Linked DNA regions of Homo sapiens: region 2 is linked to region 1. A link means that fine-mapping ties the variant in region 1 to the expression of a gene that starts in the linked region. Tissue or cell type: monocytes after Pam3CSK4. Region 1 holds a variant in brackets; the other region holds the start of a gene. All regions are shown on one strand. Distances are between the middles of the regions.

Region 1 (5,200 bases):
CATCTTAACTGGGTGACACCCCAGGAGGGCTCTCTGAAACTGCCTCCCATGACTGCTGCTGGAGCGCCTGTTCTGTGCAGCACCTAGCTTCAGACGCTGGGGACCATGGGATGAGCAGCCACTCCCACTCAGCCACCAGCAAGGACTGCCCATCACAGCCCAGCTGGTGTCAGGACGCTGCTCTGAGAAAATCAGTCAGTCGAGGTGAAGTGGGAAGAACTCCAGGCTTGGGCCAGCCAGGAGTGGGTGACAGGGACAGAGACTTCTTCCTTCCCCAAGCAAATTCATGCAGCAGACAGCCCATCTGTGGGAACCCAGCACCTGGGAGCACTTTCGAGTTCACAGAGCCATTCCCCTTTTGTGGCCTCTTTTCAGATTTATGGGACCCTCTTTGCCCGTTTCACTGATGAAGAAACTGCAGCTCGGAGAGGTGAAGGCTTTGCCCTTTGGCTAAGCAGCTGGGACAGAGTGGACTCAGGCCCGTCCTCCACCTCACTCCTCGCCTGCAGAAGGAAGAGATTCCTTAGGCCAAGAGGAAGAAGCCCACGAGAGGAGGTGCGAGTGTCTCAAGGAGCCAACGGGATCCTCCATTTGCCTGTGGTGTCAGGGCAGGGTCCTGAAGCCTGAGGGTCCAGGGTTGAGTCCCAGCTTGGGCACTTACCAGGTGTGACCTTGGGCTGGTCACGTGACCTGTCTGTGCTGCAGGTTCTGTATCTGTAGAATGAGTCAAATAACAGAAACTAGCTGAGGGGGCCATGAGCATTAAATGAGTTAATAAGGCTTCAGCATTTACACAAGTGTCTGGCAATAGTAAATCCTCAAGAAACAGGTGCCCCATGACAGCCACAGTTGCAGGTTCGAACTCCCGCTGTTAAACTCCTCATAGGCTTCTGCTCACATTCTTCAAGTCTGGAATCCACTTCTAGGAACCTGTCCTGAGGATGTAATCCCAGATAGATAGGGACAAAGCTAATTGATGGCCAGAGACGCTCACTGTACACCACGTACACCTGAATAAAGTCACAAACACTTCCTACCACAGGGCAGTGGCTTAGTAAACAGGCAAGCCACTCAATACAATCACAGAGCTCCTGGCTGTGATATTCCCAAAGGGTTTAGAGTCGCAGGGAGAAGGCTGTTTTAATGTTAAGTGAGAAAGGCTGAACACAGAACTCTAAACTCAGGGTGATTTCAAGCTTGTAAAAAGAAAATAAGCAAACATAAAATGTGTATAGAAACAAGGTGAAAGGCAACATAGCAAAACATGGCCAGTGATGATCTCTGAGGAACAGGAATATGGGTGATTTTTTTCCACCTTTTTCTACCTATTGGCCAATTTCTAAATATTCTGTAATGAGTATGTATAAAACTTTTTTTCTTTTTTGAGATAGGCAGAGTCTCACTGTGTCACCTAAGCTGGGGTGCAGTGCTGCAATCATGGGTCACTGCAGCCTTAAGCTCCTGGGCTCAAGCAATCCTCCTATCTCAGCCTCCCAAGTAGCTGGGACCACAGGCGTGCATCACCATGCCCAGCTAATTTTTTCTTTTTTTTTTTTAAGAGACAAGGCCTCACTATGTTACCCTGGCTGCTCTCAAACTCCTGAGCTCAAGTGATCCTCCCACAGTCCTGGGATTACAGGTGTGAGCCACAACACCTGACCAAAACTTTTCTAATGGGAGAGAACTCAATAGACTACTTTTGAAATAATACAGTTTTATACAGTGAGCTGAAACAGACTTGTCCTTAGCATGTTGGCATGGATTGGATTGTCAGTTTTCTAGTAATGAGTTGAACACTGGGGGCTGAGCCTGTGACCGACAGTGTTCACTTCAGTACATGTTTATTAGGGGCCCCAGCTCTGGGCTAGCCTCTGATTGGGCAGGGGAAGAAGGGCCAGGGGCAGGGCCCAGACATAGGTACAGTTTGAAGTCCCTTTGATACCAGGCCAGCTGGAGGTACAGAGAAAACATCCTGGAAACATTGCTGGATGGAGGCTGTCTTCGTGATTTTCCATATTCAAATGTTGCCGGTACTATCATTCACTTAATAGATTTTTAAAAATTGGTTCACCTAAAAAATACTCAGAAAACTATAGATTATTATTAAGAGGAAGCAAAAAATGCTAAAATAAATGAATAGATATATCATATTCATGGTGGGACCACTCAATATTTTAAATAAGTCAATTCTCTGCAAACTGACTTATAGATTCAACACATACACCTCTAATCAAAATCCTAACAGGGGTGTGTGTGTGTGTGTGTGTGTGTGTGTGTGTGTGTGT[T/GTGTT]TAACTTGGAAAACAAATTCTAGTTTTCAAAAAAATGTATGTAGAAACCCAAAGGGTAAAGGATAACCAATTTTTGAAAAGGAAGAACTTTTAGCCAGAAGAGTTGATAGCTCTTCTGGCTATCAAAACCTATTATAAAGCGATGGTAAATAAGTGCAGTGTTGGTACAAGGATAGACAAATAGATCTATCTATGGGATAGAATAAAAAAGTCAGACATAAATGGATGCATGTTTTATGACAAATGTGACACTGCCAAGTATTGGGAGAGAGGCCAAGCTTTTCAATGACCAGTGCTGGGTGAATTGGCCATCCATATGGAAAAAAATGGAGCTTGATCCCGACCTCAAACCATTCATGACATCAATTTCAGGGGAATTGTAGACATACATGTTAAAGACAAAATGTAAAACTTCTAGAAAGTAGAGAACGGCTTTATGCCTTCAGAGCAGTAGACAGATTCTTCAACACGGCACAGGAAGTGGTGGCCATACCAAAAGGATTGATGAAATCAACTCCATTGAAATTTAAATTCTTTCTGTCAAAAGACATTCAAAGGAGAGTGAAAAGGCAGGTTACAGAGTGGGGAAAGATACTTTGCCCACATACAACTACAAGAGAGCCTACTTTTTCCCCCAGAATAAACACAACTAAAAATATGACAAAAACTAACAACTCAATATAAAATGAGCAAAACCAGGTACTTCACAACAAGAATGTTCCAATAGCCAATAAATATATAAAAGATACTGAATCTTGTCAATAACCAGGAAAACTAAAATTAAAGTCGCAATGAAATAACCACAGCACCCCAACTAGATTGGCTGAGATTTAAAATTTTCACAATACCAAGAGTTGACAGAAATGTGAAGAAATTTTGACAATACCAAGAGTTGACAGGAATTCTTCTACCTGGCTGATGGGAGTGTAAAATGGTACAACCACTTTAGAAAAGTATTTGGCAGTATCTATCATAGTTAAACATACTTCTACCCCCATGATCCAGCAATTCCTCTCCTGGGCATAGGCCAAACAGAAATGCTTACTTATGTGAACCTAAAGACCTGCTGATGAATGCATCATAGCTTTCATCAAATGCTATTCAAAATGGCCCCAAACTGAGAACAACCCAAATGTCCATCCACTATAGACTGGATCAATAAGTTAGGAGACCCTTACAAAGTGGAATACTATGCCGTAATGAGAAAAAACAAAATACAGCTACACACAGCGACCCGAGTGATTCACACACATAATGTTCTGTGAAAGAAGCCAGACACAAAAGAATGCATACTACGGGACTCCACTTACATGATGTTCAAAGCCCAGCGTGTGTAGGTGATAAAACTCAAAAGAAAAGCAAGAAATGCCTATCGTAAAATGCAGGACGGTGATTGCCTTTGAACAAGAGGGAGGAGTAGTGATTAGCAGTGGCCCAAGGCTGGGTTCTGGGGAGCTAGAAATGTTCTATTTCTTCACTTGATGATTGCTTTTTGATCAATTATTGAACTGCACATTTTAGTTTTCACGTGAGTTTTATCCGTACACAATGGGCCCTCTCTCTGTGTGTGGAATTTCACAATAAGAAGTTTAAAAGAACGTCTTCCAGGGCACTAAATGGAAGGCAATTTGCATCCAGGTGCTAAGGAAGCATCCCCAGGCAGGAGAGCAAGACAGCATCATGAGAAAGCCAGAAGGATGAAGCCTCGTTCCATCCAGGTGCCAAATGCCCTGTCCGTCTTAGACTTAGAAATAAAATTCAGAAGAGAGAGGTGATGCAGACATGCATATTAGCATGTTTGCAGATTAGAAAATGAACTCATATAGTTCCTGCCTGAAAGTCAGCCTGACCTGGCTGCATGGTGCGGTGGAGAGCAGTGGCTTTGCCGCTCAGTGTGCATGGAAGAGTTTTCAGGCAAATAAGTGAGCGGAATCCACAGCTCCAAGGTTTTGGTGAGATTTTATTTAAAGCGCATGTTCAGCATACAGCACGCTAGAAATTACCTTTGCAACTATTTACATTTAGGATAAAACATTCAGATGCCAACTAAAAGCGTTTGTGTGGGGGACGTGGTTTTCAAAATTCTCTTAGGGGCTATGTGAACCCCAAATACGAAGAGCACTTTCTTTTCTTTTCTTTCTTTTTTTTTTTTTTGAGACAGAGTCTCACACTGCCACCCAGGTTGGAGTGCAATGGCACGCTCTTGGCTCACTGCAACCTCTGCCTCCCAGGTTCAAGCTATTCTCCTGCCTCAGCCTCCTGAGTAGCTGGGAATACAGGCACCCACCACCACCCCCGGCTCATTTTTGTATTATTAATAGAGATGGGGTTTTTCCATGTTGCCCAGGCTGGTCTCAAACTCCTGACCGCAGGTGATCCACCCTCCTCAGCCTCCCAAAGTGCTGGGATTACAGGCGTGAGCCACCGCGCCAGGCCAGAAGAGCTCTTTCTTAACAGGGGTGTGAGTAGACTCTGACAAGTGACGACAAGCGGGAAGGGCACTCATGGGGGAGGAACAGCACAGGCAAAGGCCTGGGAGCCAAGCTGTGTGCTGCGCTGAGGATTTGTGGAGGAAGAAGGGCAGGTGTCTGGTCTGTAAGGAGCCCTGAGGGCCTCAGTGGGGGAGCAGGAAGAGGCTCAGGAGAGGGAGGAGGAGCCCAGTGGAGTCAGCAAGAGGAGAAGGAGAGAGGCCGGAGCCTTTGGAGGAACAGGTGGCTGAGCAGGTGTGGAAGAAGAAAGCAAAGAAAGGGGCTTCTCTGATCCCCTGTTGTGTGTGGCCACAGCTCTTGAAAAGACCCCACAAAGCAGGCCCCTATCCTAACAGCTGCCTTGAAAGGGCCTTGTGCCCACCCATCTGCCACCATCCTCCACCCCATCCCTTATGATCGCCAGGGTCTCCCAGCAACACAGGCCCT
Region 2 (5,123 bases), 440 kb after region 1:
TTACTAGTTTATTTAGGTTTTTATTTCTTATTGAAATTATCTTTTACCTATCATTTATATTTTCTTCTCAATAATTACCCATTTTATGTAAATTAAAACATTTATTCACATAAATTTGTCTAAAATATCACTTTATGATTATCAAAATTTCTACAGTATCTAATCTGATGTTCTCTTTTCATTTTTTATTTCTTCCAGTGAATATTTCTTTCTTGCACCAATTTTTTTTTTTTCTTTTCTTTTTTTTTTTGAGACGGAGTCTTGCTCTGTTGCTCAGGCTAGATGGAGTGCAATGGTACGATCTCGGCTCACTGCAACCTCCATCTTCTGGGTTCAAGTGATTCTTCTGCCTCAGCCTCCCAAGTAGCTTGGGTTACAGGCGTGCACCACCCCGCCCGGCTAAGTTTTGTATTTTTCGTAGAGCTGGGGTTTTGCCATGTTGGCCAGGCTGGTCTTGAACTCCTAACCTCAGGTGATCCACCCAGCTTGGCCTCCCAAAATGCTGGGATTACAGGTGTGAGCCACCGTGCCCGACCCTTTTTTTCTTTTTCTTTGACTAGTCTTGTCTATTAGTTATTTCAAAGAAGTAGCTTTGATTCTATTGAACCTCAATGTATTTCTTACAATGCTATTGAGGTATAATTTACACATAAAATTCATCCATTTACAAAAATGAAAGTTTAAAATTCAATTATTTTTGGCAAATTTACCAAATTATGAAATTGTCACCATTGTGCAGTTTTAGGACATTTTCATCACCCCAATTAGACTGTTTATTGTTCATGTACAGTTAATTCCCATTTCACACCCAGCTCCAGGCAACCATTAATCTACTTTCTGTCTGTATGGATTTGCCTTTTCCAGACATTTCATATAAATGGAAATTTATAGAACACAGGGCCTTTTGTGTCTGGCTTCTTTGACTTAGTGTTATTGAATGAATGAACCTCTCCGTTTTTCTTTCCCTTCCTTCCTCCCTCCCTCCCTTCCTTCCTTCCCTCCCTCCCTCCCTCTTTCTCTCTCCTTCTCTTCCTTTCCTTTTTCTTTCTCTCTTTCTTCCTTTCCTTTCCCTTTCTCTTTCTTTCTTTCTCTCTTTCTCTCTTTCCTTTCTCTCTTTCTTCCTTTCCTTTCCCTTTCTCTTTCTTTCTTTCTCTCTTTCTCTCTTTCCTTTCTCTCTCTCTTTCTCTCGCTTGCTTGCTTTTCTGGAGCTCTCAGAGCTGGTCAGAGCCCTCCAGGCCTACAGCTTTCGTGGAGTCAGAGCCTTCATCTCCTAGTATGGAAGCAACCCTCTTGGTCTCCCCACCCGCTTCGTACAGTTGGCCAAATGGTCTGAAACAAATGAAAGACCTGCCTTTCAGCATGTTTTGGGAGGTTCAGACAGCGCCTGACTCAATGAGAACGGTCAGCGACGAGCGGCGTTTCCTTCTTTTAAAGACCCTCTACAATTCCAGGCACTCCTGCAGCTGTGGAAACATTCCGAACGGCTTAGCAACCAGGACACCCTCTGCGCCGACCACTACCAGCATCGCAGGCTTCTTGAGCTGGCTTTCCCAGTGGAAAACCATGCTTGGTGTTTGCACACTGTTCAAAGGATGTTTTCGAACAAAGCACCGAGGAAGGGGCGAAAACACCTCAACACAGCCGTTCTCTGGGGTTGGAGCTATTGAACTGTGACATTTGCGAAGACTCAACTTGTTTATGACACGGTCCAAATAATAACCCTTGCAGACTGCCCGCCCCCCCCCCCCACCCCCAGCACTCTCCTTAGATTCAGGTAAAAGCATGTTATAACCGTCTATAGGACAAACAGGCAACAGTAGCAGTGAAGTGACTCAAGTAGCCAGGATCGAGAATGAAGGTGCTCAAAGAAGACTTTAGTTTGATCTGTATGTAGTGCGCTCATCTTTTTTGAAACTAGGAAATTAAAAATTAGAATAAAGTTTTTATTTAATATGCAAATACATCCGCAAACCCATCAGGAAACATAAGAGAAATCAGTGCCAAAGGAGCTCTTTCTCCCAGCCCTCTAATCCTGGCAGGTTTGTGGATCGTGGACGGGGAGCCCCTGGAAAGGACCGCGCCGGGAAGCCGGGCCCTGCAGGGACTGGCCGCGGCTGCACCGGCGTTGCCCGTCGCACACTAGGAGGCAGCACCGCGCCGAGGAACCCGCAGCAGACGGGCAGCCAGCGTGTGTGCCTGGGGCGAGTGCCCTCGCCTGCCGGCGTCCCCATCGGAAAAGTGGGGGCGAGGGCAGCCTAGCGGAATAGCTGCGGGAGGATTAAATGAACGAGTGCAGGTTCACCTTCTGGGCGCTGACAACGATCCGTGGGCTCTCGCGAAATGCCAAGTCGCCGTCCCGCTTGCTCCCATAAAAGTTTTGGGAGCCACGCGGCGCGGCGGGCGGGCTCCTGAGTCCATGAGCGGTCCCACCGAGCGGTCCCCGAAGCTTCCCCAAAGCCCAGCCCGCGGCTCGCGGAGCGTGGTGTGGGGGGACTACAGTTTCCAGAGTGCCCTGCGGCGACGGGCGGAGCCGGGGAGCGCCCGCAGCCAATTAGGGGGTCCCGGGGCTCTGCCGGGGAGCGGCGGGTGGAGCCGGGCCGGTGGGCGGGCGCGGGGACGGTCCCCTGGAACGGGTCCGAGGCTCTCGCAGGCAGGGCTGGGCCGGGCAGGAGCTGCGAGGCCGGCACAAGGGAGGCGGCCCTGGGGACCTGACAGGGCGGGGGCGGGGGCGGGCACGCCGCCGCCTGCGCGGTTCCGGGTGCTCCCGGCGCGGCGCTGCCCAGGGCACACTTGACCGAGGTCGGGCTGCGGGGAAAGGCGGGTCTGGGGAGAACCCCGAGAGACGCGGCGTCCTCCAACTCCTCCTCCTTCTCCTCGCGGCCGCCGAAGCCACAGCCCGAGCCCGAGCCCGAGCCCGAGCCGGCGCCACCGCGCCCCCGGCCATGGCTTTTGCCAATTTCCGCCGCATCCTGCGCCTGTCTACCTTCGAGAAGAGAAAGTCCCGCGAATATGAGCACGTCCGCCGCGACCTGGACCCCAACGAGGTGTGGGAGATCGTGGGCGAGCTGGGCGACGGCGCCTTCGGCAAGGTTTACAAGGTGAGGGCGCTGAGGTGGGTGGCCGGACGCGCGTCGAGGGGCTCCGGAAGGAAGGGATGCCTGAGCCGGACCCGGCCAGCCTGGCTCCGGCTCCGAGGGCTGCCCGGCGCTGAATTCGGGGTCCCTGGCCCTCATCCCGATGACTCTTGTTTTTTGGGGGGAACATCACTCGGCCCGGCCGAGTCCCTGCGCTCTGGGCGCCCCCTCCGGGCACGGTTGCCGCCCCCACCCTAGCCCTGTTTCGGAGCACTTCCTGTGTGTCCTGCACTGCGCTCGGCGCCGCACGGGGAGACAAAGGGGCGTTGACAGGACCTCAGCATCCGAGAGGGCCACTCGAGGGACCTTCCAGGGACGTTCCGTAAAACGGCGATACGGGCACACTTTTTTTTTTAAGAGAGACCACAGATGCTGTGGGAATATCGAGGCGATGTGGACCGAGAAACTCGGCTGCGCTTGGACGGGTTGGGAGCTAGGGACACATCTGAAGATGAGCCAGAGACAGGGAAGTGGGGTGGGCGAGGGGTGGCCCATGGACTGAGAGGTGGGGCTTGGAAAGGTGGGTTGGGGCTGGTCAGAGGGGGAGGTCAGGATCTGGTGAATGCTGAGCCTGGGGGAACAGATTTGATTCCGTCGGTCTGAGTCACAGCTGGGGAGTCTCCCAGCCTGCAGTCACCTCTCCCCTAGAGGAAGACGCGGCAGAGAGCTTTTGTGGAGTGGGTGGGGCAGAGCTGATTGAGTCTAGAGAAGTGTGGCAGCAGGACGTTGGTTTCTGCTCCTGGGAGCTAATTCTGAGGTGGTGAGTTGTTTTAGGGAGCCAACACCTACAGCTTGACTCCCCCCTTTCCCCTAAGAAAATTTTTACTGGGAGACGCCCACTTGTTAAATTGGTGTATACCTCCAGGAGAGCACCTCTCTTCTAAGCCACTATCCTCCTCCTTGGGGCTCCTGTAGCTTGTAGGGCACTCTGACCCTAGGATTGCCGTTCTATGAGGCTGGACCACAGAGAAGGCTTCTCCAGGCCTTCTCCTCTGACTTGGAAGTGGTCTATCGCCTAGTTACCGAAGTAGTTCCTAGATGACCGGTGTTATAATAGCATCATTTGGGAGCTTGTCAGAAGTGAACAATCTCATGCCCAGCCCCGACCTGCTGAATTAGAGTCTACGTTTTAATAAGATCCCAGGTGATTCCTAAGCAAATAGGTTTGAGAAGTACTGCCCTAGAGGCTTGGAGTGGTGGCGTTTTTTCTTTTTTCTTTTCTTTTTTTTGAGACAGGGTTTCCCTCTGTTGCTCAGTCTGGAGTGCAGTGGCCCGATCTCGGCTCACTGCAACCTCTGCCTCCTGGGCTCAAGCAATTCTCCTGCCTCAGCCTTCGGAGTAGCTAGGTCTACAGGTGCACACCACAGCCCGGCTAATTTTTGTATTTTTTGTAGACTTGGGGTTTCGCCACGTAGCCCAGGCTTGTCATGAACTCCTGAGCTCATGAAATCAGCTCGTTTCAGCCTCCCAAAGTGTTGGGATTACAGCGGTGAGCCACCCTGCCTGACCTGGAGCGGTGGCAATTTTGAGACCAACCAGGCCCACTCAGTGTCTTTTTTTATTTTTATTTTTTGTGAGACGGAGTCTCACTCTATTGCCCAAGCTGGAGTGCGGTGGTTTGATCTCGGCCCTCACTGCAACCTCCACTTCCTGGGTTCAAGCAATTCTCCTACCTCAGCCTCCCAAGTAGCTGGGATTGCAGGCACACACCACCATGCCTGGCTAATTTTTGTTTTTTTAGTAGAGACGGGGTTTCACCATGTTGTCTAAGCTGGTCTCGAACTCCTGACCTCAGTTGATCCACCCACCTCGGCCTCCCAAAGTGTTGGGATTACAGGCGTGAGCCACTGTGCCTGGCCTGGTGCCTGTTTTGTTTCCTTGCCACCTCCCCTCTGAGCCCACACTTCCTGTTATGGGGTAGGGAGAGGTCTTGTGATCCGAGAGGCAGTGCTTTTGGACTGCCCCGACTTGCTGTCCTCCTTTGCCTGA

The links. PIP is the estimated chance that this variant, and not a neighbour inherited with it, causes the effect.
Region 2: STK10 starts here. The variant in region 1 is fine-mapped to the expression of STK10 in monocytes after Pam3CSK4 (Quach 2016, PIP 0.95).

Annotation. Positions count from the first base shown.
Region 1 is chr5:172,626,130-172,631,329 of GRCh38, reverse strand. The region is part of intron 1 of LOC107986478 (a long non-coding RNA gene); the gene reads right to left. Among named protein-coding and RNA genes, the nearest start is that of NEURL1B, 13 kb to the left of the region's middle. RefSeq lists enhancers at 281-781, 4,426-5,080. The variant T/GTGTT (reference allele first, on the strand shown) is at 2,286.
Region 2 is chr5:172,185,862-172,190,984 of GRCh38, reverse strand. It overlaps STK10 (serine/threonine kinase 10), which reads left to right and starts at 2,761. Exons shown (of 19, transcript NM_005990.4): 1 at 2,761-3,098. The coding sequence starts at 2,943. RefSeq lists enhancers at 2,001-2,776, 3,829-3,908, 4,569-4,618, 4,889-4,938 and silencers at 2,449-2,808, 3,109-3,158, 3,289-3,368.